Regions from separate parts of the Homo sapiens genome. Here region 2 is linked to region 1. The links come from fine-mapping of genetic effects on gene expression. A gene starts in region 1. The other region holds a variant in brackets. All regions are shown on one strand. Distances are between the middles of the regions. Region 1 holds the start of PCAT7 (prostate cancer associated transcript 7). Region 2 overlaps FBP1 (fructose-bisphosphatase 1).

Region 1 (2,909 bases):
TGCCCTCTATTCCCTGCCCGGTAGTCCCAGATGGTCTCCACAACACAGAGCGTGCGTGAGGGCGCGGGCCAGGGAACCACAGTGGGTGTGAGAGCCCTGCGGTGCTCAAGATTGCATGAGCACGAAGAGATCACCCTCTAGAGTCTGGAGTCCGGGAAGAGAAGAACTCCATCCTTCCATGGAGGCCACCAGAAAGAGGAAGGAGGCCACAGCTGTCGCTGCCGCTGCTGCCTCTGCAGCCCACCAACCCCACTGGCAGTATAGCCCCCGATAGCACCCCTAACCTGCCCCCTGTAACCCTGGGATAGCACACCCAACAGCTGCAGGCAATGTAACCAATACCCCCCCAAACCATCCCAACTCCTCGGCCGCAGGCAGTGTTAGCACCCGATAGTGCCCACCTGACGCAGCCACGGGTATTGCTGCACTAGACAGCGCCCCAAACCCGCCCCACCCTCACCCCGCCATGGGCAGTGCAGCTCCTGATAGCGCACCCCCAGTCACAGGCAGTGCAGCACCGGACCACGCCCTTAAACCACCCCCCACTGCCAGCATTGTAGCCCCAGATAACTCCACCCAACCCGCCCCTGCCACGGACAGTGCAGCAGAAGACAACGCCCCTAAGCCATCCACCGCCACTGGCAGTACACGTTAGTGTACACAACCTGCCTCTCCCGACCACCCCTGCCACCTCGGGCAGTGTAGCCCCCCATTCCACCACCAGCAATGCAACCCCAGAGAGTGCCCCCAAACAGTCCAATGCCACAGGCAGTGTAGCCTTTGGCAGTGAGCCCCTATAGTACACCCAACCCTTACCCCCAGAAGAGGGCAGTGCAGCCCTGGATAACTCACCTACCCTACCACATTTCTACCACTGTGGCCGAGCTGCGGTCTCTGATTTCACCACCAACCGCAGCGAGGCGAGCCGCGGAGGCGCAAGCTCCGGCTCCAGCCTCCAGCACGCGGCGGTGCCTCTTCTTTCTGTCTTCCAGCCCGGCAGGAGAAGCTCTCGCTGCTAGCCTCCCTCCTACCGCTCCGTCACCACCACCACCAACAGGGAGGGAGTGCCCCAGGCTCCAGGCTCCAAGCTCCAGGCTCCAGGGGGCGAAAAGTGACGGAGCCTTCCAGTTCTTTAAGCCGGGTACGTAGTAGCTCCCCACACCCACACATAAGTGCCAGAAATGACGCGCCGCTGCCTCAGCATGCTTTATATACTGAGGTTAGGAGACCCTGGACTACATGTTCTGATTGGATGAGAGAAAAACCTCTAGGCCTACTCTGATTGGACTTTATTTTCATGCTGTGATTGGTTGTCTTAAGACTTGCTCTCATCCAATCAGAACATGCAGTCTAGGAACCGGCATGCGCATAACCTCAGGATATAAATAATGCTGAAGCAGAGTTACGTTTTTTTTGTTGTTGTTTTTTTTGTTTTTGTTTTTTTAGGTTTCCGTGTGTTTCTATTGAGCTGCTCAGTGCCCGGCTTAGAAGACCAGGAAAAGGAGTCACAGGTCGTATGCTGGAGGCTTGAGCCGCGGCACCGTGGCGCGGCTCGCCTCGCTGCGGTTGGTGGTGGCGGTGGACATTGCAGCGCGGCTGGAGGGGTAGGAAGAAGAAGATAGTTTTGGGATAGATAGAGGTGGGTAAAGAGTGTGGTTAGTGCCAAAGGGAAAAAAGGATAGCGAGGAGGAGAAGGCGTTGCAAAAAGACGATGGGGAAAAGATGGTGGGGAAAAAAGTTTTTGGGTAGATGGAGGTGGAAAAACAGGGTGCAGAGAGGGAGGGAAGGAAGGTTTTGCAGAAAGACGGTGGGTAGAAAGTTTATGGGTGGATGAAGGGGGAAAAGAAGGTGGCAATTGGGAAGAGGAAAGAGTGGTGAGGGGGGGAAAATGGGCGAGCAGTAGGGAGAGAAGGTTTTGTGAAAAGATGGTGGGGAGAGAAGTTTTTGGGTAGAGGAGCAAAAGAAGATAGCAAGTGGGAGAAGGAAAAAGAGGGTAACCAGCGGGAGGAAGACAAGGTTTTGCGAAAAAACAGTGGCAGAAAAGAAAGATGGTGGAGAAAAGATGGTAGGTAAAAAGTGTTTGGGTAGATGGAGGAGGGAAAGAGGGTGACAAGGAGGAGGAGAAAAGAGGGTGGCGAGAGGGAGCAGGGAAAGAAGTTTGGGGAAAAGACGGGAAAATAGTTTGGGGTAGATGGAAGGCAAAAAGGAGGGTGGCAAGCAGTATAGGGGAGAGAAGAGAACGAGTGGGAAGCAGGGGCAGACTTTGTGAAAAGATGGGGAAATTTTGGGGGGTAGATGGGGAAAAGAGGGAGGTGAGCAGGAGTGGGGAAAAGGCTTTGAGAAAAGATGGTGGGGAAATGTTTTTGGGTAGATGGAGAAGGGAAGGAGAGTGGCAAGGAGGAGCCGGGGGAAAGACGATGAGGAAAACAGTTTTTGGGTAGATAAAGGGGGAAAAGAGGGTGGTGAGCAGCAGTAGGGAAAAGGCTTTGGGAAAAGACGGGGGAAAATGTTTTTGCTTATATGAAGGAGCAAAAGGGCGTGATGACAGCGGGAGGGGGAAAAAGAGGGTGGCCAGGGAGAAGGGGGAAAATACGGTGGGAAAAAAAATACGGTGGGAGAAAGTGTTTGGGTAGATGGATGGGGAAAAGCGTGGTGAGCGGGAGAGTAGAGAAGGCTTTGCGAAATGACGGTAGGGAGAAAACGGTGAAAAAGTTTGGGGTAGATGGAGGAAGAGAAAGGGTGGTGAGAGGGAGAGGGCCAAATGCGGTCAGGAAAAGAAGGTGGGGAAATGGTGGGGGACAAAGGTTTTGGGTAGATTTTTAAAAATAAGATTATTTGTATTTTCACTTTTGAGTAGTTTGAATTCTTTAGATGTTTTGTGTATTAACCTCTTGCCTGATGCATAGTTT
Region 2 (2,909 bases), 64 kb after region 1:
TTTCCTTTATTTGTAAGGAAAAAAATAATTCCTTAGGTGAAGCAGAGACTTTGCTAGGGTTGAGATCTATAAGAAACTTCTCATGGAGGTCTTACAGATGCCCCTTGAGGTTGGGGTGCATAGAGTTTTCAAAAATATCCTGGCTGGGCACGGTGGCTCATGCCTAATCCTAGCACTTTGGGAGGCTAAGACAGGAGGATTGCTTGAGCCCAGGAGTTTGAGACCAGCCTGGGCAGCATAGAGAGACTCCTTCTGTAAAAAAAAAAAAAAAAAAAAAAAAAAAAAAAAAAATTCAATTAGCTGGGCATGATGCTGCACATCTGTAGTCCCAGCTACTCAGGAGGCTGAGACAGGAGGTATCACTTGAGCCAGGAGTTCGAGGCTGCAGTGAGCCATGACTGTGCACTCCAGTCTGGGTGACAGAATGAGGCCCTGTCTCTAAAAACAAAACTAAACAAAACAAATTTCTAGCGTAATTCCCAAAGTAGATAACTTTCAGTGGTAGTGGGAATACCGCAGATTCCTGTTTTGAGTGGGATTTTCAGTGGTGTGCAGGAGCTGGCTGGTATCGGCTCTCAGGAGCTAACGGTGCACATCTCTTCCCAACTCTGCCTTCAGTGATATCACATTGGTAGCTTAAAATCAACGATGGGAGAGTATTCACACCATTGACAGAGGCAAGTGGACATATCAGAGACTTGTTTGTTTGCTTTGAGACCCAGTTTACCAGCACATCACTGGGAGTTTTCCATCTCCAAATTAGCCACTTTACAATGTCGTTTTTAAATGTCTGTAGCAGATTAACATGATTCCCTGCCCTCTTGCTCTTCACAGACCACCCTCACTAATGCAGGAGGAACTGGAAACTGGAACACAGGAAGCTGCCTATCATGAAGGCCCATGATAGACAAGAGAAGTCCGGCGTGAGTGATGGAGAATATTAAACAACAAATCTAAGCCATACGCCTAAAGCTGCCAAAGACCTTGAAAGGCCCAGCTGAGAAAAACATGAACTTCAAGTCTGGCATGTACGGCTATTTTAGGAATGATGAAAAACAACTTCATCAGATGTGGCTCCTGCCCTCTTAATAGGGTGAGGACAGGCAGCCTCTTCATCTTCTCATTGTTTTTTCCTAATTCTACTCCTTCATGTTCCCAGTTCCTCTCAAACTGGGAAAGATAGTAAGCCCATATAACTGCACTTCTAATCTCAGAAGTTTTTTTTTCTAATTACAATTGTTGTTTTATAAAAGCTGGGAATACTCTTTCATTTAACAATCTTTTTCAACAGTCATTTGTTGTTGAGGCCCTCCAATGTGCCAGGCATTGCACTAGACACTGGGACACAGAGACAAATAAGATTCATTTTCTGCTCTCAAAAAGCAGAGATAACGCCAGGTGTGGTGGCTCACACCTGTAATCCCAGCACTTTGGGAGGCCAAGGTGGGCGGGTCACTTGAGGTCAGGAGTTCAAGGCCAGCCTGGCCAACATGGTGAAACCTCATCTCCACTAAAAATACAAAAATTAGCCAGGTGTGGTGGCGGGAACCTGTAATCC[C/T]AGCTACTCAGGAGGCTGAGGCAGGAGAATCGCTTGAACCCAGGAGGCGGAGGTTGCAGTGAGCCAAGATCACACCACTGTACACCAGACTGGGCAACAAGAGCAAAACACTGTCTCAAAAAAAAAAAAAAAAAAAAAAAAAAAAGAAGCAGAGACAGACCAATAGGGACTCCAATGCGTGCATCAGGGATGGAAGTTTCAAGCAGTCTAGGTCAACAGGAGGGTCAGTGTGAAGGTCAGGAATTTGGTGGATAGGGATGTAGTACAAGAGGTGACCAACAGAAGCCAGGGTTTGAAGAGCCTTAAACATGGCAATAAAAAGTTAGAAATGGAGATGAGTTTGTGGGAGTCCACTGGGGAGAAGGCGGCGTGAGCCACAACACTCATCTGCACAGTGGCTCAGGGAGGATTCGAGAGATGGCAGCAGTGAGGTGGAAGCTATGAAAAGACCACAGCAGGGATCTAGAGGGACTCCCAGAAACCCAGCTCAGCTGAACAAGTGGAGTCAATTATGAAGCTGGGAAGAAGACCGGCTACATTAAAACCCTCAATGGTGGAAGTACAGACCCACCCTTTTCTCCGGTTCCACTATGATGGCGTGTTTATCTTCTTCTGACACGAGAACACACGTGGCAAAGGATGACTTTAACATGTTCATAACCAGGTCGTTGGAGAGGACGTCCAGCTTCTTAACTTGATCACCTGTCACGTTGGTAGAACCAGCAATGCCATAGCTACAGGGAACAAAAGCCACAAAAAATAAGCCATGACCACCAGAACATGTAGATGAGTCCATAAACCCACCAAAAGTGAGTGTTCGGTAAGATTTAGAAGAAAGAGTTCATGTCCTTTGCAGGGACATGGATGAAGCTGGAATCCATCATTCTCAGCAAACTAATACAGGAACAGAAAACCAAACACCACATGTTCTCACTCATAAATGGGAGTTGAACAATGAGAACACATAGACACAGGGAGGGGAACATCACACACTGGGGCCTCTCAGGGAGCTGGGGACTAGGGGAGGGAGAGCATTAGGAGAAATACCTAATGTAGATGACAGATTGATGGGTGCAGCAAACCACCATGGCATGTTTATACCTATGTAACAAACCTACGCATTCTGCATGTGTATCCCAGAACTTAAAGTATAATAATAATTTTTTTAAAAAAGGGCCGGGCGTGGTGGCTCACGCCTGTAATCCCAGCACTTTGGGAGGCTGAGGCGGGTGGATCATGAGGTCAGGGGATCGAGACCATCCTGGCTAACATGGTGAAACCCCGTCTCTATTAAAAAATACAAAAAAGTAGCCGGGTGTGGTGGTGGGTGCCTGTAGTCCCAGCTACTTGG

Evidence for each region. PIP is the estimated chance that this variant, and not a neighbour inherited with it, causes the effect. A credible set is the group of variants that fine-mapping cannot tell apart.
Region 2: its variant is the best candidate, but not a certain one, in a credible set for the expression of PCAT7 in prefrontal cortex (CommonMind, PIP 0.58).

Annotation. Positions count from the first base shown.
Region 1 is chr9:94,553,707-94,556,615 of GRCh38, forward strand. It overlaps PCAT7 (prostate cancer associated transcript 7), which reads left to right and starts at 1,377. Exons shown (of 3, transcript NR_121567.3): 1 at 1,377-1,639. It overlaps LOC124902218 (a long non-coding RNA gene), which reads right to left and starts at 1,183. Exons shown (of 2, transcript XR_007061674.1): 1 at 853-1,183. RefSeq lists enhancers at 1-251, 916-1,578.
Region 2 is chr9:94,618,200-94,621,108 of GRCh38, forward strand. It overlaps FBP1 (fructose-bisphosphatase 1), which reads right to left. Exons shown (of 7, transcript NM_000507.4): 2 at 2,130-2,292. Among named protein-coding and RNA genes, the nearest start is that of FBP1, 20 kb to the right of the region's middle. The variant C/T (reference allele first, on the strand shown) is at 1,559.